Regions from separate parts of the Homo sapiens genome. Here all the other regions are linked to region 3. Evidence: fine-mapped expression QTL. A gene starts in region 3. Each other region holds a variant in brackets. All regions are shown on one strand. Distances are between the middles of the regions. Region 1 overlaps LYPD6B (LY6/PLAUR domain containing 6B). Region 2 has its middle 36 kb from the start of MMADHC-DT. Region 3 holds the start of LYPD6B (LY6/PLAUR domain containing 6B).

The links.
Region 1: its variant is fine-mapped to the expression of LYPD6B in testis (GTEx, PIP above 0.99).
Region 2: its variant is fine-mapped to the expression of LYPD6B in testis (GTEx, PIP 0.95).

Annotation. Positions count from the first base shown.
Region 1 is chr2:149,139,692-149,150,295 of GRCh38, reverse strand. All of the region lies in intron 2 of LYPD6B (LY6/PLAUR domain containing 6B), which reads right to left. Among named protein-coding and RNA genes, the nearest start is that of LYPD6B, 110 kb to the right of the region's middle. The variant G/A (reference allele first, on the strand shown) is at 5,513.
Region 2 is chr2:149,546,450-149,557,053 of GRCh38, reverse strand. No RefSeq gene overlaps it. Among named protein-coding and RNA genes, the nearest start is that of MMADHC-DT, 36 kb to the left of the region's middle. RefSeq lists a silencer at 305-599. The variant A/C (reference allele first, on the strand shown) is at 4,546.
Region 3 is chr2:149,034,432-149,045,035 of GRCh38, reverse strand. LYPD6B (LY6/PLAUR domain containing 6B) reads right to left here and starts at 6,337. Exons shown (of 7, transcript NM_177964.5): 1 at 6,235-6,337. RefSeq lists enhancers at 5,845-5,904, 5,945-5,994, 7,208-7,267 and silencers at 6,075-6,234, 6,245-6,584.

The sequences.
Region 1 (10,604 bases), 110 kb before region 3:
TCAGAAAACAAGAATATCAGAACAAAGAACCACCACAAAGGGAAATAGCAATACAACAGCTCCACACCAAGCATACAGAGCAACCCATCCACATTAACGCAAGAAGATTCAGGGCTCCAAGCTGCTTATAGCAATGAGGTTTACATATGCTCAGTCAATAATAACCTCTAGGTACAGTGAGAAGATATACAAGAAGGGAGTAGGTGATCACAGTACATGTTGGGTAAGCAGTGGCAAAATTGCAGAATCATAATAATGTCAATTGTTACCACTAATTTAACTAGAGCCTTTTGATATAACAAAAGGTCATAGATAACATCCCAAACTGATAAGACAAGAAAGAGTGGTATACGCATGTTATTTAGAAATGCAGAGGTCAATACCAAAAGAAACAGCTACAACAATAAAGGAAGGTGGTCTCTACAGAGCAGGACTAAAGGATGTGGATCATAAGGCTTCTATTATATGCCCTTTAGAGGTTGCATGGAGATAAAGAAAGGGGAAGGATTGATTCATGGATACTTTCTGAGGATAGACGATATGAAGGAAAGTTCAAGATGTTCTTCTACAGTTAGAAGTAGGGGAGGTTATACACAGGGAATGAAGCAGGGTCGGGGAGGGTGAGAAAAGAATTTAATCAAGGAACACACGTTATGGTGCATGTGATACATTCTTGTTTCTTGTGCAGAAGTCTTCCCTGGCCGCTTGGAATATAAATTCCTCAAAGGCAGGTACTTCCTTTGTATCTTTTACAGGGATTTGCATTCAGTAGTAATTTTAAAAATCTAAGTTGAATGTTTGAAAAATCAGCTAAGATGAATAGGGCCAGCAATTACTATGCAGACAGGACATAGGGGTGTGCGTGTGTGTGTGTGTGTAGGATTTGAGTACAGGAGGAGACTAATTTATGCTCAATAAACTATGAATGAAAGAAAAATAGCATACAAAATCACACACAAAATTAACTCTTGGAAATCTTTCAAGAGAGCTTAGTTTCTTGGTTCGGGCTCTGTTTTTACCTGTAAATGAAGAAAATAACATGTGAAGACACATAAATGTTCAAGTTCTTTCTATTAGGTTGGTGCAAAAGTAATTGCAGTTTTGCCATTACTTTTAATGGTGAAAACTGCAATTATTTTTTCATCAACCTAATAGAACTCTGGTCATTCTTGCGTAACTCCAAATGCCTGGAATGTTCTTCCTCCCCGCACCCCTTGTCAATGTATCCTTCAGGTTTCAGGTTAGCTGCTTTCTTAGAGGTCTTTCCATGCCCCCTTCTGCTTCGGTTAGTTCCCTGGGTACTCTCCCTCGTACACAGCACTCACCACCTCTTCACAGCACTTAGCATCATTTCCAGGTATGTATTTGATTCAGTGTTGCAGCTACTGTTTGCTCAATAAGACTGCAGGCTGTAGAAGTCTGTAAAACACTTGTTCGTCCACTGTCCCATAATCCTACTCTTTGCAGTCAGCCAAGCACTCGTGTCACACCTGTGAGCCATTGCATCCAGCCTTCCTCAGCACTGCCCTCAACAAGAGGAGGCAAACTGGCAATCTAGAGGGCACAGAGAGGGGTTTAATTTGGCCAGCACAGTTTTTTAAATGGAAAAATTCACACTAAAGTCTATATTTCTAACTTCTACTGAAAAAGCAAAAGGGCTGGCCATTTCTGACTTACGTGATAACACCACACGTCTGGAAACTAGAGTGAGAAAAGAGACAGGCCAAAAATGTATGAGCCTGGACATCCCTCTAAGGAGATGGTTCAGAGCTACTATGAATTTGCAAAAGGTCCATGAGCCAAAAAGAGGTTAAGAGCCTTGAAACAGCCCCTCTTCCTTCCCCAGCATTTTATGATCTTCTAAGTGTTTTGCCCTCTGCTCCCCCAACATCTGTAGTTTGGCAAAGATCCGAATTTCACTCCTTTAATCTCTTGTCAGTCACTCCCTCCAGCCCTTAATCACTTTTATGACTTTCCTAAAAGCCTCCAATTTGTCCAAATCCAACTGTGAAGTCCTGCATTTCTTTTCCCTGGGAAGATGTAACACAGTTTAGAATTACTAAGCAAGGGTTCACCTAAAAGCTTTTAGAAGAAATATCCAAGATTTGACATGTTAAATCAATTTTCACATGCAGCTGCTCAATTCAGAAAGGAAAATGCAGGGCATTCCATAGAACAGGAGGCACTGGAATATTGCATAGAGATATTTCCTTTGCCTGATTGTGTACTGAATTGACAGGCAAATGGGTCAAGAGAAACTTGTTCCTACAGCCATCTTGAAATATCCTGAAAACAGAAGAAGAATGGAAACTACCCATAGCTCAGAACACATGACTACCATCATCTCTGACTATACACACACACACACACACACACACACACACACACAGGCCCATGTGCATAAATTTGCAATCAGCCAATCAGCCAAGCCTGCCCTACTCAATCTTGAAGCTTCTTATAGTCACACCAAAGCATCACACAAGGCTGGGCGCAGTGGCTCACACCTATAATCCCAGCACTTTGGGAGGCCAAGATGAGTGCATCACCTGTGGTCAGGAGTTCGAGACCAGCCTGGCAAACGTGGTGAAACCCTGTCTCTACTAAAAATACAAAAATTAGCCGGGCGTGGTGGCGCTCATCTGTAATCCCAGCTACTCCAGAGGCTGCAGGGGGAGAATCACTTGAACCTGGAAGGTAGAGGCTGCAGTGAACTGAAACTGTGCCACTGCACTCCAGCCTGTGTGACAGAGCAAGGCCCTATCTCAAAAACAAACAAACAAACAAACAAAAAACAAAAAAACAAACAAACCCTCAAACAAAGCATCACACAGTATGATCTGACTGGAGGTAGTCACAATACACAAATAAATCCTTATCAGATAAGAATTAATTTAAATTCCTTTCAAAGCTTTTCAAGAGGCAGAAAAGCCTGTCCTTCAGAGATACCCTCCTCTGGATTAATGACTTGGGTTACCCTCTTTATCACAAGTTAAAGGTAAATTAGTAGTTGGATTGATAATAGCTCTTCCTCCTCAAATTGCTTCACCATGGATTTCTGCTTCGTTTTTTGTTTTGTTTTTGTTTTCTTTTGAACACGTAGAGTTTGAGGCCACACAACTACCCCCAAGCCTCCTGGAAGCAGAGTAGACATCAGGGCCTTGGGCAAAGCAAGGCTCAAAGAGAATCTGAGTCAACGCTCTGGGAACCGCTGAGAAGCTGGGGTTGTGCTTCTCCGCCCTGGAGTCTTAGACTGTGTGGGAGGAGCCCTTCACCTGACCATCCCCAGCAATCCCACTGGAGGGATGAGGCCTCAGGAGGGCACCCGTATTCGTGATTCAATTCTAGACTTTCCATGTGTGCACCTCGACTTTCTTGTGCCCTGACAGTGTTGTGAAGAAATAAAAAATAATAAAATTTGTAGAAGATTCTACAGTGTTTGAAATATGTTCCGGCAGGTAAGCGCAAGGGTCTTCTAATCCCACAGCTACCAGCCCCTAAAGTCTCCAGTGCCTATTGTTTGTTACTATCGGAATTCTCCTGGAGTTGCTTTTCCTTCACACATCCTTGGGGTTGTTAATATTTGGGGTCTCTGAGGAGTGGCCCCCAATAGCCATAGTTCGGCCAAGACTGTCTAAACTGAGAGGGTCTTTAATATCTAGGGGTTCTCTTTACTGGGTCTTCCCAAATGACCCCTAACCTGATTATAATACTTATCTACATAAATGCATCCAAAGGCTCCCACTGCTCCTCAGACAAATGCAAACTCCTTTCACACAGCCTGGCGTGGCCCAGCCCTGCTGCCTACCTCCCATCCTGCCATTCTCCCTCATCCTCTGTTGGCTCTGGCCACACAGTCTTCTTTCTGAGGTTCGTATTTGCCATGCTCCATCCTTCCGCAGAGCCTCTGGATATGGCATCCCCCCCTACAGTGCCCCTTCCTCCCTTTCACTTGCTATTAACTCTTAGTCTTCCTGTCTATCTCAGTGCATGCACCACTCAGCCTGGAGAGCCTGGCCTCTCTCACCATGATTAACTCCACCTAATAAAGGTTCACAGAACAGTCCACTCTTCATTCCCCCATGAGCACGCCACGTCATTGCAATTTTGCACGTGCTTGTATAATTACATGATTAATATCTGTCTCTTGCACTGTAAGCTCTGCGAGGGTAGGACCATTTCTGTTTTTGTTCACTCATATTGTCATTGGCACAGAATAGAAGCTTAATGAATATCAGATGGACATGCAGATGGAGGCATGAACACACTATCTCAGCAGAACTGTCTTCTTCCCTGCCCTAGTTTGCACACCTTATCTTCTCCAGTTTTCACCTCCGGTCACATGTTTCCTCTGCCCAGAAGTTCCTTTCTCCCAACTGTTGCCTGTTGTTTCTTCAGAGGTCTGCTGCCTCCCCTACTAGGAGGAACAAACCTTGTGCACCTTCCCAGATTCCTTAAAGCATTGCTTTTATTTCTCTTTCTTTTGACTGGCACCCTCACTTTCACTGGGTCACCACTCTGTTTTGCATTGACCAGAATACCACACCACAGAGCTTCCTGAGAAGTCTCTGAGGGGTGGAGGATGCCAACTTCAAGTGAAGTAGTATTAGCTGCTCATAGGACAAAATTTTGCTGATGTTAAAAGGGAGAAGGGAGGGAGGCTGGCAGATCCATCCACCCCCTCTTTCTCTCTTCTATGGGCTGTTTCAACATGTGGCCCTTCCTTGTGACCCTCCTGCATTAGTTGCAGAAGAGACAGATGTGGTTCTTCAGGCTTGCCGGAAGGCATCAGTCAGCACAATAAAGCATCCCAGTGTGTTCACCGTATCTTCCCCTGTGTCTCACTTCTGTTTTCCCTCACTCTCGCACCCGGGCTTGTGTCTTCCAAGTAAACTGTTAGTATCTTAATCTTTTTCTCAGACTCTGCTCTCTTGAGCATCCAGGCAAATATCCTCTAATATCCCAGGTCCCCTCAAGAGCGCAACTGCATGTATCGTCCAAGCACACAATCCAGTAGTTTGAGAAGGGTTTCTCTCTAAATATGCTGTGAATGGATGAAGCTATTGGAAATTTGACCTGGACTAACAGAAGGAAACTCATAATCCCTCTGCTTGAATCTGCTCTAGTCAGAACCCACCATCAGTGGTACTGATTTTAATTCCAAGAAGCCTAATTTAAAACTGTGTTTCTCAACATTTTCAAATGACGGACCACTTAAAGAATCTGAGCGAGGCTATGAACCCCTCTTCCCAGAAAAAATATGCACATATGAATCTGTACACTCTCAGTTTAGGGGGTTCTCAGGACCTCTGAAGCCCCATCCGTAGATTTCATAGTAAGGAACACAATCAATGGGCAGTAACAAGTAGAGCAGTTGACACCACGTTTCATAGGGAACAGTGGAAAGAACAAATTCAATACAAATCAGGGGTGGAAGATGTGAAATTTGCTGTATTTGAAGGCACGTCAAGTGGAAAAGCCATTAAATGTTTGTTCCTATAGTATCTCCTCTTCT[G/A]GGGGTGACTTCTCTGATTTCCCCAGTAAGATTTTGCTGTCCTAGCCTCATGAGTATGCTGTGATCCTTACTTACAAAATACTACTAGTCTTGGTCAGGCACCATGGCTCATGCTTGTAATCCCAGCACTTTGGGAGGCTGAGGTGGGCGGATGACTTGAGCCCAGGAGTTCAAAACCAGTAGGGCCAACATGGTGAAACCTTGTCTGTACTAAAAATACAAAAATTAGCCAGGCGTGGTGGCGGGTGCCTGTAATCCCAGCTATTTGGGAGGCTAAGGCAGGAGACTCGCTTGAACCTGGGAGGTGGAAAGTACAGTGAGCCAAGATCACGCCACTGCATTCCAGCCTGGGTGACAGGGGGAGACTCTGTCTCGAAAACAAACAAACAAACAAAAACAAACAAAAAAAACTAGTCTTTCATCTAAAGGGCCAGATAGAGGCTCTACTTTGGACAGAAATGCCAAAAAAGTCAGTGCCCAAAGACCCCACCCCCATTCTTGTTTTCTTTTTTCTTCATACAAATCATTCTGAGCTTGTAGGCCATACAGAAACTGGCAGGCTGGCTTCAGGCCATAGTTTGCCATCCTCTGCATTAAGCTGAAGCCACTGATGAACCAGACCATCTCCACCATCATACTATAAGCCCCTCTGAGGCAGAAGTCATCATTTATTTTGCCCTGGGACCCCAGTTCTAACACAATGATAAGTACACAGTCAAAGCTGAATATATGTATGTTAGATGAAAGAATCCACCACAAAGACCTCCCTTATCATGCAGTTTGAACTGATCTCATCTCATCTCTCAGGACTTGCTGACCACACTTACCCAATTATGCTGAGTGCCGTGGCTGTCCACTGGCTTGAGAGACTTAGAAAAACCACAGAATCCTTTCTTTGCCAACTTTCAGGTTGTTTTTTCAGTTTCTGATGTGAAAAGCATAAAATAACCACTCACTACTTATTTCCATAGCTAGCCTTTTAAAAGTAATATTAAAAGTGGGGATGATGCCAAGAAATCTGTTAAATATTCTTGTGCAGCTGTTCACATCTTAGCATTTAATTAGTTATAATTGCAATTTAAAAACAATTAAACTCTGTGGGGGTTATTTACTGCATCTCGTGATGATTCTGTCTTTATGCTCCTCAGAAGAGACAATTGGAAGGAGAGATCTGCTGAGATTGATAAGACAAGTTATTGTCACCCATAGCTAATTTCCCTTGTCATTGTTTTAGGGTGATGGTGGTGTGATTTTTTTTTTTTTTTTTTTTGCGTCACATGTTGCAATGTTAGAACACAAATTTCTAAACTTTTCAAACGGTATAGTAAAAACATGGCGTAGTCTTGTAGTTTTCTCTCACATCCTCAGCATAGGAAGACCAAGAAGAACTGCCATTTCTCACCGAAGGTCCCTGCCCAGATCATAAACTCATTGTCCTAAAAAAAAAAAGTTGGAACCAAAATTTACATACAACGAGCCAAGAAGTTGAGATGGAAAAACAAAGGGGAATTAGAGTGTGTTAATGGTCTCATCTTATACAAATAGAAAGCTGCCAATTAAGTTAAACTTTGCTGGGAAATAAATGGATTTATGCATATTTTTGAAAGTGTAGTGCATACATGTAATATCATAGATGGGATAGTGGGAGAGATAATGGACAAAAGGAAAAGAACTAAGGAAATCTGAATGATTATGCATGTTAACTAATAATAATGTATCATTATTGCCTCATTAATTGTAAAAAATGTGCCAAACTGATGTAAGATGTGAATAATAGCAGAAACTGAGTGTGGGGTATATGTGAACTCTTTGTACTATCTTTTCAACTTCTCCATATATCTATAACTATTCTAAAGTAAAAGTTTATTAATTTCTAAAACGAAGGTTACTCCCTAAAGAATACAATTAAGATACGTAGCTTGTAATCAGGTGAAGAAGGAAAAAGTCGATTAAAAAAATACTTAGTTCAAGAGGGCAGGAAACCGGGCGTAGTGGCATGCACTTGTAGTCCCAGCTGCTCACGGGGCTAAGATGGAAGGATCACTTGAGACCAGGAGTTCAAGGCCAGCCTGGGCAAAATAGTGAGACCCTGTCTCTAAAATTAAAACTTTTTTTTTTAAAGACAGGAGATAAGAAAAAGTTGTCTATGGGGGGAGAGGTTGATAAGCATTATATACAACACACACAAAAGAAAGTGGCAAAAACAAAGTTTGCATTTTAAGGATGCGGTATCTCCTGTCCTGTTCCCCTAATTTAATACTTGGCTGGCACTCTCCAATTCCCTTCTCACTCAACACTTCTTTCACTCGTATCCCAGGCCCCTTATCAGTGATCTGCAATTCAATCAACCAATTAACAAATATTAACTGAGCCCCTGGTGTAAGACCCTCAATAAATGCTACAGGACCCCATTCCTGGAAAAAGCAAGATGGGTGCTCCATGGGTCTTCTTCGGGTGCACCTCCCAAGCCCAGTGCAGGGCTGGCTGCACTCAGCCAGCGCTCAATACACATTTGTCCAGATTGTCTCCCCACGATGGGTCTGCATCCTGGCTGGGTGATGAAGTCACCCGGGGAGCTTTTAATAAACGCCATTGCCCAGAGCCACGCCAACCAAGATTCGAATTTAACTGGTCTTAAGTGAAGTTGGCCAGAACACCAGTATTTTTTAAAAGCTGAGCAGAAGTTTCTAATATGCAGCATGGGCAGGGTTGCATATACAGGAATCCATAAGGTAAATGATAGCAGACCAAGTCTCGATGTTATCAGTTAACTATTATAACCGTACAGGTGTGAGAATTCCAAATTAGTACTATTTTCTCTCCAGCAGCTACTAACTCACTGTGCAGACAAGACTCGAGTTATGCAGCTGCAAACCAGGGAACACCAAAGACTGCAAGCAAGCCACCAGAAGCTTGAAAGAGGAGAAGAAAGATTTCTCTACAGATCTTAGAGGAAGCATGGCCTTGCTGACACCTTGATTTCAGACTTCTAACCTCCAGGACTATGAGACAATAAATTTCTGTTGTTCTGAGCCATCCGGCTTGTATTACTTTGTTATAGTTGCCCTGGGAAATTAAAATTAATACAGCTTCCAATTAGGTACAGGGGGTAAAAGAAGAATAAGAGAAAACTTGATAATCCAACAGGAGGTTGGAATTTTTTTAATAGTAAATAAAAAGAAAAAAAGTAAGAAAGATTTCATATAACAAATACAAAATAACAAGGCAGAAAAAATTCAATATATCAGTAATTCAGAAACTATGGACCCATTAAATTCACTTGGAATGCAAAATGTTGAATGGCTTTACAAATCTGATTCATTGCTATGTAATTCCTAACGACATTTCCAGAATAACAGAACAAAATGATAGAAAATATACAAAAAATACAGAAGATGAAAAGACACACCAAACAACTTTAAATCAGGCTACCTCCCTGATTTCTCTCCCCCCTGTACTCCACGCGGATGCACCAAGTACAATTGTGGCCCTGCCTCAGGACTTTGCACGCATGGTTCCCATTTCCTGGAATGCTCTGCCCCAGACAGTCACATGGCTTACTCCCTGCATTCACTCAGCTCTCTGCCCAAACGTCACTTAGTCACAAAAGCCTGCCCTGACCAGGTTATCTAAAGAATATTCTACCCTATCAATCTCTATTTTCTTACCTGGTTTTAGTGCTTTTTTCATCACTTACCACCACCTGATGATTTTTGTTGGCCTCTCACATTAGAAGGTAAGTTCCATGAGAACAGGGACTTTATTTACTGTTATCTATCAGTACCTATAGCACACAGTAGGCACCAAATAAATATGTGCCTCTATCATAAAATTTGCAGATGGGAAATGTAAACATTGTTTTATGTTTTGGCCAAATCCCTTCTAAAGTGTTTATTTTTGCAAACTGCAGCTTCCTCTCTCCTTTTATGCCTAACGAACGATCAAAGATGGGACAAATGGAGAAAAGTTTTCTCTCTGGAGAAAGAAAATTCAAGATGGAGAGAAAGAATTTATGCCACGATGCTGGATTTTGTGGAAATTCACCAGGCATTTATTTCCTTGGTGACCCAATCATAAAAGTGAGGGAAAACCTTCTTTCAGCCAGTGTGGGGAATACAACACCAATGCTACAAAAGTACTGGCATTCTAAATGCAAGGATAAGCTTAAAGAGATTATTTGAATCTAAGAGTGTGGGAGGGACATTGGCTCTCACGGTCCAGCAGGTGTGAGTCGGATCTAGCTAACTCCCTGAGGATCAAGGATTCAATTGCCATGCTGAACGGGCACCCCTGATTCCTACAAGTTCAACTCTTTATGAGACTTCTCCCATTTACCTTCTCTGGACCTCGCTTAGCACTACCCTATGTGAGGGAATCATGGGGACAGAAGGAAGCCTCCTCGCCCTGCCACTTCCCAGCAGCCCTGCCCTGAAGGCACTCTCCCCACACTTTGGTTCTTTAAGGGAGCCCCACATCATGCAAAGCGCTGAACCACAAGCTCGCTCGTTGCCTTGGCATCACCAGCACTGACCAAGAAAAGCTGGTGTTAGGTGTAGGCTACAAGCCAAACACTCAGGGTCCCCAGCCCTTTCCCACCACAGCCTGTCACCCAGGAAATATAGAACAATCTGTCCAATCCCTCCCACATGCACATGGTCCTCTGGGAGCAGGTTATATACGTTTGTGAATTTATACACAGCCTGGTGTCAGGCCAATAAATTACTTCTGGAATTCAGTTCCAGTAAAGAAAAAAAAATCCACCCCCACACAACAACAAAAAAGGAAGGAAGCAAGAAATTTTAAAAAGAGGTGAGTCTTCTTTTCTTCCCACCCATGGGCTTTTCCAGTCCCTAGAAAGTTCTTCTTATAGTCTAACCTAATTCCTTCTTGAACAAATGTAAGACATATGTCTCTAATTTTCATGGGAAATGGAGAGGAGTTCACAACTATGTCCATATTACCTATCTTCAAATACTTAAGGGCCTCTCTCTGCCTTCTCTTCTCTAAGATAAACAAGTTCTCTTCTTTAAGTCTGTAATAATCATCCAATTTATTTCATGGCCCCCTTGATCTTGAAACACGGCAAATTTGA
Region 2 (10,604 bases), 510 kb before region 3:
ATCTCAGTTGTGCTATTTACAAGTTTTCTGACCTTGGGCAAGTTCCACTTCTGTTAATACCCATCTCATGAGAAGATTTAAGGTTTAGGAGGGATGACATATGCAAGCCATTTCTTACTATTCCTGTGGAAGAGGTCAGTAAATTTTAGCTGTTCTTATTATCTGACCTCTGAATGTGTACAAATTTTGTGGACAACTAAACAGTAAAAATTACCCCCAAATATATTTTCCTAAAATTATAATACAAACATCTTCAAGAGGACATGTATTTGGCAGAACACTTTAGTATTTAATCTCACCACAACTTTGGAAAAGTAATACCATCACAAACAATTCATCACATCCAAAACAAATAAATGGAGCACTCCTACTAGCTGTACATACACAGATAGTGTGTTAAGTAATCACAGAATTCACTGCTTTAGACTTAATCAGCCATTACATGCCCAGAGATGTTTTTTTTTGGAAAGTTTTTATTGGCATTTGAAATGGTTTCCTGTTGGCGAAGTGTGCAGTACCTCAAAACTCAACATGCAAACACTGTATCCAACAGAATTCCACCTCAATAGTTTAAAAACTTATATACATACACTGTGAGAGAACACAGGTCTTCAAAATATCAGTATTTGTAGTGACAGATACTGTGTGTTTAAAAAGCCAAGTTTTTAAAAGTCCTACATTAGTGCAAAATAGTTCCCTCCATAGAGATTTTGCTAGGTCTTCGCAAAAGTCAAACTGTTCACATCTATTGTCATGATTCCATTTACGGTCAGTAGGAGATTGGAAATTAACCATTTTTTCACATGCATTTACTGTTAAAATTTACAGAAGTACTGTATCTCATTTAATAGTCATAAAAACAGTATGGGATAAGTGATAGTATCTCCAGTTCCTGAGGAGGAAATCGAAACTCAGAAAAAAATAAGTAAATTATTTAAGCTCACAACATTTCTAAGTAATGGACTAGGAATCCAAACTCAAGTCTTTTTCATATGAAAGTTCCAATCTTTCATGCCCTACTGCTTCATGAAAATCACTGGTCAAGCTTCTCACTTTTGGAAATGGCTTTTGGATATTTTATTGAAGGGTGGGCCTGTTGATTATAAGGAAGTGATTGGAACATGATTTAAAGTGATTTTGATAAATGATTTTTTTAGGTATCCCACAGTCATAAATGAAAAGGCTTGATAATACAAGTCTTTATATGGCAGGTGGCTCAGAGTATGTTCTCCTACGTTTGAAAACTAAAAGTTCAAGAAGCCTTTGAATTCTGGATTTAGAAAAAGTGCACTAGTATATTTTTAGGCTAATAAAATTTAGACGAAATTAAAAATTTTAGTATTGCAATCCCCAGCATGATTCCTGAATAAAGTGGCTATTAACACCTGCTTATATGGTTTGGTGAAGCTCAAGAATATTGTAAATACTTTAACTTGAATTCTACTATTTATAAAGTGATTGTACGAATGAATTAGAAAGAAACATCCCAAAAGAAGTCTTAATGGGTATAATGGCTATGGTTGCCCTCAATAAAAAAGGTTACAAACATGTATGTGCATATGTCCAAACATACACAGATATGCACAGGTTTTTTTTAATTTTTGTTATTTTATCATATTATATTATTACAAATTATTTAATATTATTCTGGCACTTAAGAAATACTATGAGTTTTTTAACTGTTATAATTCTGTTTCTTTATTACATCTTAGTTATTATTCAAACTAGAAATATAAAATTTGGAAGCAGCAACTCTTGTTTACATTAGCTATTCTTTGCTACATTGAAAAAATATCTTTCAGGGGCCCTTAGCCTTTTTTATGCCATGGGCCCCTTTTCAGAATTATGTTTTTAAATGCATAAAATATATATAGTTACTAAAAACTCAATTATTTTGAAACACATTTGTCAAAACATTTTTAAAGTTTGTGACATATATACTTTTTATTAATGCATTAAATTACAAAATTGAACAGCAGTCTAATGCTGCTATAATTTTGAATTAGTGACAAGGAGAAATGACCTTATGAGATATCTGCAACAGCTGTAATATGATGGGGAAAAATCTGTGTTTTCTATTGGTGACAAGTCACAAGAACTGCCAATAACACTTGATTTGTTGCCTGTGTTCATAATGGAAAGGAATGCCAAAATAAAAATGTAATTTTCTTTCCAACCAAATTTTATTCTGTTCATGGACCCCCTGGAAGTCCATGGACCTCTTGTTAAGAAAGTAACTGTTTTCCACAAGTTTGTATCAGCAATGATTATTTACTATTATTGCATACTTTGGGGCTCCTATTATAATAATCCCTGTCATATTTAAGGTAGACTACACAGCTATATTGGCTTACACTGATATATATTTTGGCGTCCAACAGAATGGAAGTCTTACTTCTTAGTCATATTACAGAAAGGCAGGTGGCTCTCCTCCAGAAGGTAATTCGGGGACCCAGACTCCTTCCACCTTGTATCCGTATTAACTCCTAAGTCCTTATTGTTGTCTACATTCGACTGATAGGAGCAGAAAGAGTGTGAGGAAAAAAAAGTGGTGGTGGTGATGTAAGCCATTTCTGGGCCAAGCCAACTTAAAAGCCAAGACAAAATTTGGGTAGAAAATTAGCTTTTGCTCCTAGAATCATTTTCTTTTAAGGTTCTTATAAGATAGATTTGAGAGAGTGTTTTTCTCATATCATCCCTCACGTTCCTGAGATAAACCTTACTTGGTTTTGGTGGACTGGCTGCTTTTCTAAATTGTTGACCTGGGAAGAACAAATAAAAAACTCAGCAGCCTTTGCACTGTGAATGGGAGCAGCTAAACTGCAAGCATAGAAGCTGTGTAAAGTGTCCTTCTCTTTGACTCCTCAAAAGGTGATCTATCAGTTGCTGCTTCCTATTATTTAACATCCTAAATACCACTTTCATCAGGACTGCCCCTGCCACTGCCTTACTTCAGATGCTCATAAATTCTCTCCAGTACTACTTCTGTAATAGCCTACGGATGGAATGTTTTGTCTTCAGTTTTGTCCTCCCTCCCAAGGTCATTTTTCTACCACTATTCTCCAAACTTTTAAAACTTCACACCCCTGTGAGTGAAAACATTGAGCACACACCTCCATACCTGCACATTGATTTCTTTATAAGTATGCACATTTTTTTGCTATTATATATATATAATAAGATGTTTATACACATTAAAAATGTTTAAATGGACAGATTAAAAGATAAACGTAAATAGAAGTTCTAAGATGATCTTCCCCATTCAATGAATTATTTGACACATACATGTATCATCCTGTGTACTGTCAAGATAAAGGATGCTACAAGCATTGGAGGAGTCATTGAAGAATTACAGCTTACCTGAGAAGCTAGGAAGCACAGGTGGGTCTAGAAGGGGAGAGTCAGGACTAGAGAAACACAGCTTCAGCTTGAAGTAGAAATGCTGAGTTGGAGTTTGCAGGTAAGTCTCAGAAGCAGTAGAACTGACCACAAATAAGGACAGTGAAGTGGGAGCTCCTACAGAATTCTCAGAAAACTGCTGTGCGGGACCATCCCTGGGCACCCCAGGACCTTCTGCATATGATGCTTTTTGCTTCACCTCTACCTTCTAAATTTCCCCAAGTTCCTCTCCTCAGAAAACTCTAAAACATTACTCTACTAAGAAGGCAATTCCAAGAAATGTATTTCCCAGCCTCAGAAGATACTGGAGCTGATGGTGCCAGTTGACAACAACCCATTCAATCCAATATACTTTGGGGAACAGCCACTTCAGATTGGAGACTAATACTCTATTCTGGAATTCAGAGTAGTTTCCTCAAATTGCACCTGATTTTGTCTTTTTCAAAATCTTACAGCTTCCTTTTTCTTCCAGTGGTTTATAATCATTTTGGCCCTGAAAACTTTTGTTTACATACTTACGTAAGAGCATAAGCAAATAAAAATTCTTATATTAAGCATTGGTTGAGCAATGGGAGAGTGTCTGAAGCCTCTTCTATTTCTCCACAACCTGCACTGTTCCCCATAACACTACACACTGCTCCCTTAATAAGGGAACTTCCAGAACACCATGGAATGTGTCTAGAAATCACCGCCCTACAAAGCTCATGAACAGGCACTTCTCAAAAGGAGACATTCACACAACCAATAAAAAGATGAAAAAATGCTAATCATCACTAATCATTAAAGAAATGCAAATCAAAAGCACCATGAGATACTATGTCACACCAATCAGAATGGCTATTATTAAAAAGTTGAAAAATAACAGACGCTGGCAAGGTTGCAGAGAAAAGGGAACATTTATATATTGCTGGTAGGAATATAAATTAGCTTGGCCACTGTGGAAAGCAGTATGGAGATTTCCCAAAGAATGGAACACAGAACTACCATTCAACCCAGCAATCCCTCTATTGGATATATACTCAGAGGAAAATAGATCATGCTACCCAAAAGACACATGTACTCCTATGTTCACTTCAGTGCTATTCATAATAGTAAAAATATGAAATCAACCAAGATGCCCATCAATGCCCACCGATGGACTCGATA[A/C]AGAAAATGTGGTACACATACACCATAGAATCCTACTCAGCCATAAAAAAGAATGAAATCATGTCCTTTGCGCAACATGGATGCAGCTGGAGGCCATTATCCTAAGTGAACTAATGCAGGAAAAGAAAACTAAATACCACATGTTCTCACTTATAAGTAGGAGCTGAATATTAAATACACATGGACACAAAGATGGGAACAATAGAGGTGGGAGGGGAGAAAGGGGGATGGCTTGGAAGTCTGCCTGCCTACCGGGCACTATGCTCACTACCTTGGTGACAGGGTTAAGCCTCAGCGACACTATTTATTCATGTAACAAACCTGCACTTGTAACTCCCGGACCTACAATAAGAGCTGAAAAAAAAAAAAAAAAAAAAGAAAGCATGCAAATGAATAGCCAACAGTTACATGAAAAAAAAATGCTCAATATCACTAGTCACTGGGTAAATGCAAATGAAAACCACAATGGGATATCACTTCTCACCTGTTAGAACAGCATTTGTTAAAAAAAAAAAAAATGAAAGATAATAAGTGTTGGCAAGAATGTGGACAAAAGGGAGCCATTACACACTGTTGATGGAAATGTGAATTACTACAGCCATTGCAGAAAACAATATGGAATTTTCTCTAAAAATTAAAAGCAGAACTACCATAGGACCCAGCAATTCCACTTCTCAGTATGTAGTCAAAAGAATTGGAATCAATATGTTGAAGAGATATCTGTACCTCTATGTTCATTTCAGCATTATTTACAATGTACGAGATACAGAATTAACGTAAGTGTCCACCAACAAATAAACGAATACATATACATATTTGTTTTTTGCATATATATATATGTATATATATACATATGCAAAGGAATACTATTCAGCCTTAAAAATAAGGAAATTCTGTCATTTGCAAAAACATGGATAAACCTGGGGAACATTATTTTAAGTAAAATAAGTCCGACACAGAAAGATAAATACTACATAATCTCATTTATAAGTGGAGTCTAAAAAAGGTCAAACTTATAACGTACAGTAGAATGGTGATTCCCAGAGGCTACGGAAAGGGAATGGTTGAGGAGATGTTGGTCAAGGAATACAAAATTTCAGTTAGACAGTAGGAATAAGTTTAAGATATCAATTGTATATTAGGGTAGGTATAATTAATAAAATATATTATATTCTTGAAAATTACTAAAACAGTAAACTTTAAATGTTCTCATTACAAATAAAACTATGTGAGGTAATACATATGATAATTCACTTTATCCATTCCACAATGAAAACATCTATTAAAGGGCAGCCAAGATGGCCGAATAGGAAGAGCTCCGGTCTACAGATCCCAGCGTGAGTGATGCAGAAGACGGGTGATTTCTGCATTTCCATCTGAGGTACTGGGTTCATCTCACTAGGGAGTGCCAGACAGTGGGCACAGGACAGTGAGTGCAGCGCACCATGCGCAAGCCGAAGCAGGGCGAGGCATTACCTCACTCGGGAAGCAAAAGGGGTCAGGGAGTTCCCTTTCCTAGTCAAAGAAAGGGGTGACAGACGGCACCTGGAAAATCGGGTCACTCCCACCCTAATACTGTGCTTTTCCGATGGGCTTAAACAATGGCGCACCAGGAGATTATATCCCGCACATGGCCCAAAGGGTCCTACGCCCACGGAGTCTCCCTGATTGCTAGCACAGCAGTCTGAGATCAAACTGCAAGGTGGCAGCCAGGCTGGGGGAGGGGCGCCCACCATTGCCCAGGCTTGCTTAGGTAAACAAAGCAGCCGGGAAGCTCGAACTGGGTGGAGCCCACCACAGCTCAAGGAGGCCTGCCTGCCTCTGTAGGCTCCACCTCTGGGGGCAGGGCACAGACAAACAAAAAGACAGCAGTAACCTCTGCAGACTTAAATGACACTGTCTGACAGCTTTGAAGAGAGCAGTGGTTCTCCCAGCACGCAGCTGGAGATCTGAGAACAGGCAGACTGCCTCCTCAAGTGGGTCCCTGACCCCTGAGCAGCCTAACTGGGAGGCACACCCCAGTAGGGGCAGACTGACACCTCAAACAGCCGGGTACTCCTCTGAGACAAAACTTCCAGAGGAACAATCAGACAGCAGCATTCGCGGTTCATGAAAATCCACTGCTCTGCAGCCACTGCTGCTGATACCCAGGCAAACAGGGTCTGGAGTGGACCTCTAGCAAATTCCAACAGACCTGCAGCTGAGGGTCCTGTCTGTTAGAAGGAAAACTAACAAGCAGAAAGGACATCAACACCAAAAACCCATCTGTATATCACCATCACCAAAGACCAAAAGTAGATAAAACCACAAAGATGGGGAAAAAACAGAGCAGAACAACTGGAAACTCTAAAAAGTAGAGCACCTCTCCTCCTCCAAAAGAACGTAGTTCCTCACCAGCAATGGAACAAAGCTGGATGGAGAATGACTTTGACGAGTTGAGAGAAGAAGACTTCAGACGATCAAACTACTCCAAGCTACAGGAGGAAATTCAAACCAATGGCAAAGAAGTTAAAAACTTTGAAAAAAAATTAGATGAATGGATACCTAGAATAACCAATGGAGAGAAGTCCTTAAAGGAGCTGATGGAGCTGAAAGCCAAGGCTCGAGAACAACATGAAGAATGCAGAAGCCTCAGGAGCCGATGCGATCAACTGGAAGAAAGGGTATCAGTGATGGAAGATGAAATGAATGAAATGAAGCGAGAAGGGAAGTTTAGAGAAAAAAGAATAAAAAGAAATGAACAAAGCCTCCAAGAAATATGGGACTATGTGAAAAGACCAAATCTACATCTGATTGGTGTACCTGAAAGTGACGGGGAGAATGGAACCAAGTTGGAAAACACTCTGCAGGATATTATCCAGGAGAACTTCCCCAATCAAGCAAGGCAGGCCAACATTCAGATTCAGGAAATACAGAGAATGCCACAAAGGTACTCCTCGAGAAGAGCAACTCCAAGACACATAATTGTCAGATTCACCAAAGTTGAAATGAAGGAAAAAATGTTAAGGGCAGCCAGAGAGAAAGGTCGGGTTAACCACAAAGGGAAGCCCATCAGAATAACAGTGGATCTCTCGGCAGAAACTCTACAAGCCAGAAGAGAGTGGGGGCCAATATTCAACATTCTTAAAGAAAAGAATTGTCAACGCAGAATTTCATATCCAGCCAAACTAAGCTTCATAAGTGAAGGAGAAATAAAATACTTTACAGACAAGCAAATGCTGAGAGATTTTGTCACCACCAGGTCTGCCCTAAAAGAGCTCCTGAAGGAAGCACTAATATGGAAAGGAACAACCAGTACCAGCCACTACAAAATCATACCAAATTGTAAAGACCATCAAGGCTAGGAAGAAACTGCATCAACTAACGAGCAAAATAACCAGCTAACATCATAAGGACAGGACCAAATTCACACATAACAATATTAACTTTAAATGTAAATGGACTAAATGCTCCAACTAAAAGACACAGACTGGCAAATTGGATAAAGAGTCAAGACACATCAGTGTGCTGTATTCAGGAAACCCATCTCACGTGCAGAGACACACATAGGCTCAAAATAAAAGGATGAAGGAAGATCTACCAAGCAAATGGAAAACAAAAAAAGGCAGGGGTTGCAATCCTAGTCTCTGATAAAACAGACTTTAAACCAACAAAGATCAAAAGAGACAAACAAGGCCATTACATAATGGTAAAGGAATCAATTCAACAAGAAGAGCTAACTATTCTAAATATATATGCACCCAATACAGGAGCACCCAGATTCATAAAGCAAGTCCTGAGTGACCTACAAAGAGACTTAGACTCCCACACAATAATAATGGGAGACTTTAACACCCCACTGTCAACATTAGACAGATCAACAAGACAGAAAGTTAACAAGGATACCCACGAATTGAACTCAGCTCTGCACCAAGCGGACCTAATAGACATCTACAGAACTCTCCACCCCAAAACAACAGAATATACATTTTTTTCAGCACCACACCACACCTATTCCAAAATTGACCACATACTTGGAAGTAAAGCACTCCTCAGCAAATGTAAAAGAACAGAAATTATAGCAAACTGTCTCTCAGACCACAGTGCAATCAAACTAGAACTCAGGATTAAGAAACTCACTCAAAACCACTCAACTACATGGACACTGAACAACCTGCTCCTGAATGACTACTGGGTACATAACGAAAGGAAGGCAGAAATAAAGATGTTCTTTGAAACCAACGAGAACAAAGACACAACATACCAGAATCTCTGGGACACATTCAAAGCAGTGTGTAGAGGGAAATTTATGCCCACAAGAGAAAGCAGGAAAGATCCAAAATTGATACCCTAACAACACAATTAAAAGAACTAGAAAAGCAAGAGCAAACACATTCAAAAGCTAGCAGAAGGCAAGAAATAACTAAAATCAGAGCAGAACTGAAGGAAATAGAGACACAAAAAACCCTTCAAACAATTAATGAATCCAGGAGCTGGTTTTTTGAAAGGATCAACAAAATTGATAGACCACTAGCAAGACTAATAAAGAAAAAAAGAGAGAAGAATCAAATAGACGCAATAAAAAATGATAAAGGGGATATCACCACCGATCCCACAGAAATACAAACTACCATCAGAGAATACTACAAACACCTCTATGCAAATAAACTAGAAAATCTAGAAGAAATGGATGAATTCCTCAACACATACACTCTCCCAAGACTAAACCTGGAAGAAGTTGAATCTCTGAATAGACCAATAACAGGATCTGAAATTGTGGCAATAATCAATAGCTTACCAACCAAAAGAGTCCAGGGCCAGATGGATTCACAGCCGAATTCTACCAGAGGTACAAGGAGGAACTGGTACCATTCCTTCTGAAACTATTCCAATTAATAGAAAAAGAGGGAATCCTCCCTAACTCATTTTATGAGGCCAGCATCATCCTGATACCAAAGCCTGGCAGAGACACAACCAAAAAAGAGAATTTTAGACCAATAGCCTTGATGAACATTGATGCAAAAATCCTAAATAAAATACTGGCAAACCGAATCCAACAGCACATCAAAAAGCTTATCCACCATGATCAAGTGGGCTTCATCCCTGGGATGCAAGGCTGGTTCAATATATGCAAATCAATAAATGTAATCCAGCATATAAACAGAACCAAAGACAAAAACCACAAGATTATCTCAATAGATGCAGAAAAGGCCTTTGACAAAATTCAACAACCCTTCATGCTAAAAACTCTCAATCAATTAGGTATTGATGGGATGTATCTCAAAATAATAAGAGCTATCTATGACAAACCCACAGCCAATATCATACTGAATGGGCAAAAACTGGAAGCATTCCCTTTGAAAACCGGCACAAGACAGGAATGCCCTCTCTCACCACTCCTATTCAACATAGTGTGGGAAGTTCTGGCCAGGGCAATTAGGCAGGAGAAGGAAATAAAGGGTATTCAATTAGGAAAAGAGGAAGTCAAATTGTCCCTGTTTGCAGACGACATGATTGTATATCTAGAAAACCCCATTGTCTCAGCCCAAAATCTCCTTAAGCTGATAAGCAACTTCAGCAACGTCTCAGGATACAAAATCAATGTACAAAAATCACAAGCATTCTTATACACCAATAACAGACAGAGAGCCAAATCATGAGTGAACTCCCATTCACAATTGCTTCAAAGAGAATAAAATACTTAGGAATCCAACTTACAAGGGATGTGAAGGACCTCTTCAAGGAGAACTACAAACCACTGCTCAATGAAATAAAAGAGGATACAAACAAATGCAGGAACATTCCATGCTCATGGGTAGGAAGAATCAATATTGTGAAAATGGCCATACTGCCCAAGGTAATTTATAGATTCAATGCCATCCCCATCAAGCTACCAATGACTTTCTTCACTGAATTGGAAAAAACTACTTTAAAGTTCATATGGAACCAAAAAAGAGCCCGCATCACCAAGTCAATCCTAAGCCAAAAGAACAAAGCTGGAGGCATCAGGCTACCTGACTTCAAACTATACTACAAGGCTACAGTAACCAAAACAGCATGGTACTGGTACCAAAACAGAG
Region 3 (10,604 bases):
CTAGAGAATTCTACCAAACACTGAAGGAATAAATAATACCAATCTACCTAGTCCCCTCCAAAAATACATTACAACCAAGTGGAATTTATCCAGAGAATGTAAGTCTGGTTCAACATTTGAAAATCAATCAGTGCAATTCACCATATTAAATATTAAGAAAACTCATATGGTTCTGTCAGTTGATGGTAAAAAAAGCATTCAATAAAATTCAAAATCCACCCATAATTTTAAAAAACACTGTCAATAAACTAGGAGTACAAAGGAAATTTCTTAACATCATATTGTATCTACAAGAAACCTCAACTAACATCATACTTAACAGTGAAAGATTTATTGCTGCCTGCTCCATGATAAGAAACAAAGTAAGGATGTTCTCTCTTATCACTGCTATTCAACATTGTACTGCAATTCTTAGCCAGTGCAATAAGTTGGAGGAAGAGAAGGAGGGAGGGAGGAAAGAAAGACACGGCATTTAGGTTAGAAAGGAAAAATAAAACTGTCTCTATTCACAGATAATATGATTGTCTATGTAGAAAATTCCAAAGAATCTACAAAGGACCCACCTAAAACAGATGAGTAACTTTAGCAAGGCCACAGAATACAATACCAACACACAAAAATAAATTCTATTTCTATATACCAGCAACAACAGCAATCCCCAAAATGAAATACCTAAGTATAAATCTAACAAAATATGTGCAAGATCTATATCCTGAAAACTACAGAGTGCTGATGGAAGAAATCAAAGACTTAAATAAATGGATGGTTATACCCTGCTCATGAACTAGAAAACTCAATAATGTAAAGATGTCAATTCTTCCTAAATTAATCTGTAGATTTAATACAATTCCATTCAAAATCCTAGGAGGATTTTTTTGTAGATATTGACAAACTAATTCTAGAATTCATATGGAAAGGCAAAAGAACTAAAAGAGTCATAGCAATTTTGAAAAAGAATAAAGTTGGAGGGCCTACACTATGTGCTTCCAAAATGTATTCTAAAGCCACAATAATCAAGATACTGTAGTGTTGGCATGAAGTAAGCATACAGATCAATGGAACTGAATTGAGAGTCTAGTAATAAACCCTTACATTTTAGCTAATTGATTAGTGACAAAAGCTCTAAGACAATTCAAGGGAAGAAAGGACAGTCATTTCAACAAATGGTGCTGGAACATTTGGACTCCCACATACCAAAAAGAAAATACCTTTGACTCATACTTTATCCCTTATACAAAAATTAAAGTAAAATGGATCATAGACCTAAGTGTAAAACATAAAACATGAAACTTCTAGAAGAAAATAGAAATGTTCAAGACTTTTTGGTTAGTTAGAGAATTCCTCAATACAACAATAAAAGTTGGATGTATTAAAAAATCGATAAACTGGTTTATCAAAATTAAAACTTTTGCTCTGAGAAGACATTGTTAAGGGAATAAAAATGACAAGGCAGTCGCTGGGAGAAGTAATTTACAAATTACATTTCTGACACAAGACTTATATCCAAATTATTGTACTGAACAACAAGAAAACTCAATAAAAGCAAGTAGTTAAAATTACCTCTGCAAAACACTTCAACACTTTAAAATTTTATTTGCGTTTCTGTTTTTTCCAGGCAGTAATGGGTCCAAACATAACCTCTCATCAATTTGTATCTGTAGCATATTATTTAACTTTGGAATTGGACTTTTGATCTGTTAACTTTTGGTGTACTTTATATTGACCCAAAAGAAGTTAGTTTTCTTTGAATTCAGGAGATAAATTTCATACAAGTCCTTAGTAAAGAGACCACTTTTTCTATCAAATAAAATTGATTCTTTAAACACCAAAAGAAAGTACAAGTTCCTGAGGCATCAAAATTTATTTTCTCTTCTTTTAAATAATGAACCCTGAGCATGAATCACCACATTTGTAACCACCGTATTTCTTCCTTTCCCTGCTACCAAAACTAAACAATTCTGGAACATAATGATGAAAGAAATGACCCTTATTTTCCCTTTGCTCATGTTTCTACATTTATTTCTCATGACCTGGTACCATGTTTTTGTAAGTCATTATAAATCATATTTAGGAACAATGTGAGTTATAACAAACAATCAAAGAAATTCTGCATGAAAGAAATCCTATAAAATTGAGTTATTTAACATTTAACTGTCTTTTTCCACATGAACACCTGTCCTTTTTGCCCAAAACCCTACCTGCTTAGACCATATAGCTCTGCTGGAAACAAGAGAGAATAAGCCATGATTTCCAGCACTATATCCAGTTTGTTTCTAATGACTGCACTCTTGTCTGGATCTATTTTATTTTTTATTTCTGTACTTCTCACCGCCTGACTTATTAGACAAAACATAAATAAATGTCTCCATCTAGTAGACTGTAAGCTCCAATCCCCAGCACCTAGAACAGTGTCTGGCACACAGTAGATGCTCAATAAATATTTGTGAAATAAATGACTGCCCAAGGCATTTCTCTCTACCTCATTCCCTCACATTCTTCCAGTGATCCTGGCCAGCCCATGGCAGTATTGTTGCTGAAAACAGGAAAATATGCTGCCCTCCACTTCTGCTTTCTTCCAGCATTAGTGATCATGTCTTTTTGCCAATTTCTTTGCTAACTAGATATTGAGGATAGAGGATCATGAGAAGCGGCATCCTTGGTTGCCCAATCTGATTCCAAAAGTCCAGCACCAATGTCCACCAATGTCTACCATATAAAGCAGAAACAAAGTGCAGCACTCACTTCACATTTCAGATGAAAATAGGATACATGATTTCAAAGCAGTTCATGGTAGAGGCTGGTTTCCTACTAAATGCAACTACCAAAGTTATCGCTCTTTGGACTTAGCATCAGGAGAATTGTTTACTAGTCCAGGATCTACCATTAATTGCATCTTCACCAAGTCCCAGCCTGTTAGTTTGAAGACAGTTAACAATACTGAAACAAAGTCATGATTTAGAGCAACTAAGTGTTCTCAAGAGAGGGACAGGGAGTTTCCGGGGAAGGTAGGCAGTGGGTGCCCAGCAAAATCATATGTGAGGCTTTTCAAACTACACAGGGTTTGAAACTCTTCTGAAACTCCTCCACCCCAATCCACCCCTTGAGAATTGCCACCATAGAGTGAGCCACTGTTGCTATTACTATTGGGAGTATGGAAAACTCAGAGAAGCTTTTCCAGGTTTCAGGTGTAAGCTTGTTGAGGAATTGGACCAAGATTTACTATGCTTCTTAGTGACATCCATGGAATCTAATACAGGGTAGTCCTGTCTTTACTTACTTTTCCAACCTCAGCTCCTTTCCTCCCCTCAGCCACACCCTAGGCATCTCCCATGGTATTGGACTTCTGATTACCAATCTGTGCCAGACCTTGCATCACCTGTCCCCACCTCTGGGAGACACAGTTTGTTGCCTACCTAACAGCCCAACAGGCAGTCTCACTTTCCTCCTTGCTAACAGAATTCTGATTGTGTTCAGACATGGAGCATGGATGCTCAGGTAGGTGAGCCCCTCCTACAGCTCCGGAAAATAGCTTGGGCAAAACAATCATGGGCCCCTCTTCTCCTTTGCCAATGACTGGTTTCAGGGTAAGCGTTAGACCACTTTGGCCAGTGACGCGGGGAACTTCGGGGAAAATTTGTCCTTTATTATCTAGAGAAAGATTAAGCAGCAAGCCCCGGCCTTCTTTTTTCTGCTTTGGATGTTGTCATGTGAAGGCATGATGGAGCTCTAGTCACCCTGGAAAAAGAAGATAATTTTCTAGAAGCCACCAAAGAGCTGTGGCCACTTCGAACGACCTACCTTCAGATGTTCTAAGCAAGAAAGTAGAGTAACCTAAACATATTACAACAAAAAGTGTCCCTCTGGAATCCTACCACATGGCCTAGAATTTTTCTCCTAGACCAGCCCTTCTCATTTTCTTTTTTTTTTTTTTTTTTTTGAGACGGAGTCTTGCTCTGCTGCCCAGGCTGGAGCTCATTTTCAATTCAAAGCTCAACTACAGTTTCTTTGGGGAGTCTTCACTACGTCCCCAGACAGATGAGTCCTAGACGATGTTATCCTCATATCTGTCTTTCCAACTAGACTGTGAGCTTCTCAAAAGCAAGCATTTTCGCCCTTGGCAGAGGCCCTGGCATATGTTGAGCATTTATTATATGTCGAATGAATGAATAAACAAAAAACAATGAATGAAAAGATGGACACACAGGATGCCCTCCATGCATTAGATGAAGACTTGACTGATGGAATACGGCCCTCAGGCTGTCTACATTCTACTGCAGACTACCTTTAGGCGCTGGTGAGCAAAGACAGAGATAGTAAAATGAACATGTCCTGTTTTGTCAGACTTCTCATTGGGAATTGCGCCCCCTACCGACATGCCTTGCAGCAGAGGTGGGCCAGTCTATCAATCACAGTCGGTCATGTGCCCATTCCTGTTGTGTAAACCTCTCCCTGTCTGCTGAGATGGCTTGGTTCTGTTTTGGTCCAGTATGTCAATAAGATTGCTATAAGGGGCCGGGTGCAGTGGCTCACTCCTATAATCCCAGCACTTTGGGAGGCCAAGACGGGCAGATCACTTGAGGTTAGGAGTTCGAGACCAGCCTGGCCAACATGGTGAAACCTCATCTCCACTAAAAATACAAAAATTAGTCCCACGTGGTGGCCGGCGCCTGTAACTCCAGCTACTTGGGAGGCTGAGGCAGGATAATCGCTTGGACCTGGGAGGTGGAGGTTGCATGCAGTGAGCCGAGATCACACCACTGCACTCCAGCCTGGGTGACAGAGTGAGAGTCTGTCTCAAAAGAAAAAAAAAAAAAGAGAGAGAGAGAGAGAGACAGAGAGAGACTGCTATACGGATAGAGAAGATGGGATTCTCTCTCTCCCTCTTTGTCTCTGTCTCTCTCTCTGAAGGAGCAGATAAGCCTGAAGGTGCAAGTCCTATTTATCGTCCATACTAAGAACCAGTAAACACAGAGAGAAAAACAGCTAAGATATACAAGAGAGAGAACTAGCCCTGGAACCTTGTATGAGCCTCTGGAACTAGCTATAGCTTTAAACTGAAACCCTCGACCTTTTCATTTATGTGACCCAATCAATTTCTACATAGTATAAGGCAATTTTCAAGTGACCAAAACCCAACCCAAAGAAAACAATTCTGACAAATACGATGGGTAATGATGAGGGCAGTCTGACAACACCCCCTCCATCTGCAGGGCCCGTGCACTGGCAGCCCTAATCTTGGCCTCTGTGATGCTGTCAGCAAGTAAGGCATCCTGGAGGAAGCCTAACCATGAACAAGTCAGGGTGGGAAAGAATGCCCCCACCCCACAACACACACATCACCACATCAACACAAAGGGGGAAAAATCAAGCAGTATGCTATGTACTCCATGAACATCATATAACCTAAGTCTGTTGTAATGATTATAATATTAATAATACCTATTTTACTTTAAGGGAACTGAGGCTCAGAGCAGTTCAGTAACTTGCCCAAGGTCACACAGCTAGTTACTGGAATTTAAATAGCATTCTAGACTTTTCCCACTCTCTGATCCCCTGGCCTTGGGAGGTGGACAGCACCCCTCCACCCACCAGCTCCCCCCAAACGCCACAGGGCATACAGACCTGAAGCCTCACAACCCAAGCCCCCTGGAGTCAGAGCAGCCTCCAGACCCGGCTTTTGAGAAGCCCCAGGTAACTAACCAATGTGTAAGGTAGGTTATTCAACAACAAAAGTAAAGAGCCGGGGCAAGGGAAGCGGCGGCACCCAAGCTGGTCGCGCGTGAAGCGCTGCAGGGGGAAACACTGGAGCTGGCACGCTCGCTCTTGGCCCCACGATCGGCCTTGAACCCCAGCCCCAGCTCCGCGCTCTCTCCAGCAGTTTGACCCCCAGTATCTCCTCTCCCCTCGGCTCTGCCGAAGTCACTGGCCCCGCAGGGCTCTGGACGATTAGAGACCCACACCGCTCCAGCCTTGCCCCGGCCCCCTGCTCCCGTCCCGTCCAGATGTTGGCAGCTGCTCGCCTCGAGGCAGCGACCAGACCCCGACCCCGCCACTGCGCCGCGGCCCCGCGGCCCCGCGGCCCCGCGGCCCCGCGAGCTCCTGGCTGCCCCAGCGCGCCCAGAAGGGGCGCAGCGCATCTCCCGCCGCAGTCGCGCGGCCCCGCACTCGCTCCGGCGCGGGGTGAGCCGTCCCGAACCCACCACCGCCCCCGCCTGCTGCGCTGGCCCAGCTCACCTCGCCGCCCGCGCCCACCGAGCCTCTCGGCGCCCTCACCCGGCTCCCGGCCCAGGCTCCCAGCGCACCCGCCTGGGGCCGGCGTTGGCTGCTACCGCGCGGGGCGGGGCGCGGCTCCTCCCTGCCCTGAACCACCTGGGGCGCGGGAGGGGGCCGGGCCGGGACAGGTGAGCCTCGCCCGCGAGGGAGCAGCCCCGGGCCCGGCTCCGCTGGGAAACCGCAGGGCTCCACCACGAGGTTGAAAGGAGGCCCAGGCGGGCGGCAGTGTGGTAGTGGCCAGCGCTGGGGAGGCGGCAAGGAGCCTGTTCCCACCCAGCCAGCCCGGCTCAGGAAGTGAAAGAAGCACGGGATTCGGACCCCACCCAGCTTAAAGAGGGGAGGGTCCAACCCCTTTCTTCCTAGAAAACCAATGTAGAAACGAGGAGTGCAGACCCTCGGGAGTGAAAATGATTGGGCCAAGGGTGCAGGTGAGTTAGTTCAGGATTGGAAGAACTCTGAAAGACCTTTTTTGACCATTCCATCCAACCCCGTCCCCACCTTGCCCACCCGTCAAGTGATTCCCTCCCCCTTTTTAAATAATGACATTAAGCTATAAATAAGATAATTTCATATAGTGACGTCCTCCCCACCCCTGGACGGTAAGCCCCAGGAGAGGCAGGAACCTTACCCGTCCACTACTGAATCACCAGAGCTTTGAAAACTCAGGGCATTTAATACCTGATGAACAGACTAGGTGGCGCCCAGTCTTTTGCGTCCAGCGTTAGACTGGTCCCCTCGGCCCAGAGCTGCTCCAGCATCATTCCAAGCTTACTAGGGAGAATCCAGAGGCAAGCTGTTAGATTCCGGGCCACCTGTCCTCTCTCTACTGCTTACTCCCCACCCACTGCCAGCCAGGCAGCTGGGATGTGGGAGGTCTACACTCCCAGGGCACCTTATAGTGGTCAAGCAAATCTTTAACTTCTGAAGATGCCACAGACAGGAGAACTCTGAAATAAAACACTGTCCGGCCAGCCTTGCACTGTGGAAACACAGCTCAGAGTATGGGCCACTGACCCAAGATTCCATGGCTGGTAGCAAAGCTGATCCTGGGTCTGCATTTCTAAAGACAGTTGGCTGGTCTGGGGCCTTTGAGGGGCTGCTGGTTATGCCTGCAGTGGGGAAACCTGGGTACAGAACTTCTGCAGAAGTGGGGTCTGGGTTTGGTCCTCTGCTGAGACTTCTAATCTGTCTTTCCAGACCTCTGAGGTCAAGCATCTCCTGAGCCAGCTTGCATTTATTGAGGCCCCTGACAACCGCAAAAACAAAAACAATGGTATTTTTAGGTGTTCCATTTAACAAATGGCCTTCACTCACACACACACACACACACACACACACACACACACACACACACGAGGTAATGTGTCATGCTGCTCCTCACATGTTAATTTCAAGACTCGTTAAAAAAATCCATTCCGTGAAAAAATTCATTTCACTGCAGAAAGCACTGTACAACTTTAAAGTTGTATGGAGAACATTCCTTCTTATGACTATTTCAGTACACTTCCGTGACTATATATTAAACCTCCAAGGCCAAAATGGGAGGATCTCTATTAAGGTGAGGTCAGGGCCAAGAAGACTGCTCCACCCCTCCACTGACAACAAGCCCAACACTCTTAAGGTCTAGACACCCCACCCCTTCAGTGGGTTCTGCACATATGGGTATTTCAGATCTGGTGTTACCTGGCTGGCTACGTCACACTGGGCAAGGCCAACCTAGAAAAGGTTATATGGGATGCCCCACCTAGGTGTGCCCTACCTCAGTTGCTACTCCCTCTATGGTGGCAGGGAATCTGGTGTCCCAGGGTGGAGCTGTGGTGGGGCCTGCACTTTGGGACAGCCACTTGCACCAGCAGGTAGGGCTGAGCAAAGGAGCACCTCTGGGTCTCACTCACATGAAATGGACCTAGACCTTTTTTTGTGTTGGTTTCAGTCAGTAGAGCATGTGATCCCCTGTGATTTAAAATCCTGCTGCTGTGCGTGTGATCTTGGCTGGGCCAGCCTGCTAAGTGATGCCACCCAGACAGGCCTGAGAATCATCAGGAGGGTACAGGTTCTGCCCCAGTGCTTGCTTGCTTGCACGTGATCTCTCCCTCCCCACCCCACTCTCTCTCCTGTGCTTGCTGAGCAGCCTTGGGCATGTTCCTCAATTGTGTGTTTTTCCTACTTGGAAAATGTGCAGCCATGAAATCAGACAAGATCTCTGTTTGAAGTTTTTTGCTTAAAAGGGGTATCTGAAATAAGAAGTTCTGATACTGTTGTGTGGCTAAGTTAAATAATCCACGTAAAGTGCTTGAGCACAGCGCCAGCACAAAGCACCTGCTCAGTGAACAGTAGCTCTGCCTAGCAGTGCAAAGAGAGCCAGCCCACTTCTGATCAACATTAAAATGCTGGAAATAGGGACAAAACCACTGATAGACTTCATAAGACTCTAGAATGAATTAATTAATCTTTACAAATAACTATTTATTGCTATTCTCTACTGGTCTCTAGGAGAATGATATTTGAACTAGAAAATCTTCAGTTTCTGCTCTATCTCTAGTTCTCTGATAATATAATGAAATATAAATTATCCAAAGAAGCAACAATCCAAAAAACTTCTGAGCCTTAGGATATATTTACCTTCCTAATTTTTCCTGTCTTTACTTAGGACTCAACATGTATATTAATAATGTATATCTAGCCGGGCGTGGTGACGGGCACCTGTAATCCCAGTTACTTGGGAGGCTGAGGCAGGAGAATTGCTTGAACCCAGGAGGCAGAGGTTGCAGTGAGCCGAGATCCTGCCATTGCACTCCAGCCTGGACCACAACAGTGAAACTCCATCTCAAAAAAAATAAAATAAAATAAAAAATACTGTATATCATTTTCTGAGGACATTTTTCAATGAGACAATGTGTGTAGCATTCCTGGCACATAGTAGTGTAGCAGGACGAGTCGCAGAGAAAACTCCTCAGACACCAGATTAAAGAAGGAAGAGTTTTTTTTATTTGGCCAGGAGCATCGGCAGACTCATGTCTTAAGAGCCGAGCTCCCCGAAAAAGAAATTCCTGGCCCTTTTAAGGGCTTACAACTCTAAGGGGTCTACATGAAAAAGTCATAATAGATCAAGTAAGCGTGAGGAACGTAACTGGGGGCTACATACATCAGCTAACAGAACAAAAAGTTTTACAGTGCTTTCTCATACAACATCTGGAATTTACAGATAACACCAGTAGTTTTGGTCAGGGGTTAATATTATTATTATTTTAACCACCAGGGCCAGGTGGTGGTGCCAAGGTCGTCTAGCTATTTATCTTACTTCTGTTTCTTTCCAACTTTTTGCTTTCTCCCTTTTCTCCTGTCTTATAAACTAGGGAAAAGGGGAGGTTGGGGAGAAACTGGGAAGGACAACAGGAGAAGTGGTGGCCTCATACCATAGTAGCTGCTTACTTAATTATGACTAATATAAGGAGGTATAGGGAAGTGGCCAGAAATATTAGGAGCAGAAAGTGCCATGAATTCAAGTAGGCAAAACTGATAACCACTTTATCAGGCAGCCCAGATTTTAAGTTCACACTGGCTCTGGAATCAGACTGTTTGAGTTCAAATTCAGCCACAACTTACAATGCATGTTAATCTCTCTATGCCTCAGTGTCCTCACCTATACAATGAGACAACAATATGAGAATTTCATAGAAAAGCTGAGACACAGAAATAGCATAATAACTGACCTTTAGTGAGCAGCTGCTTCATGCCTGGCTCAAGTGAATGCTTACATTCTCTTTCAAGGGTTAACCTTAAAGTAGGAATTCTTAATCAAAAGCCACAGACCCTGCAACTGAATTTGAAGTTCTGTGTCTGTATACGTTTTTACTAAACAGAACATCCACAGCTGTTGTAAGACTTGCAAAGCCATTTGGGTCTCAGGAATAGTTAGGAGTCACTGCCTTCCAGACATAGCCGGGACAGGAGTTTTGGAGTTGGAAGATCTGTTAGAGACTGTGCAGACCACCATTCCCAAACATCCTTGAAGGGGAGGATCACTTGGATGCCTGCTCATGACAGAGTTCACTCCTAAACATTCTCATTCGGGAGAGCAGAGTGGCTTTTGAATGAGCACTCCGGGGGCTACTCACCACAGGCAAGCCTGGGAAACTGATCCCACCCAACCTTCTCATTTCACGGGTCAGGAAACAGGCCCATCTCACAGGTCAGGAAACAGGCCCAGAGATAAGGACAGCTCGAAACAGTTCCCACCCCACGTCAGTCAAGGGCCTCCCTTACCTGTAAGTTAAGTCTTCACCCCGTCTGAACAAAGGAAGGGAAATGTCACTCCTTCCCACAACCCC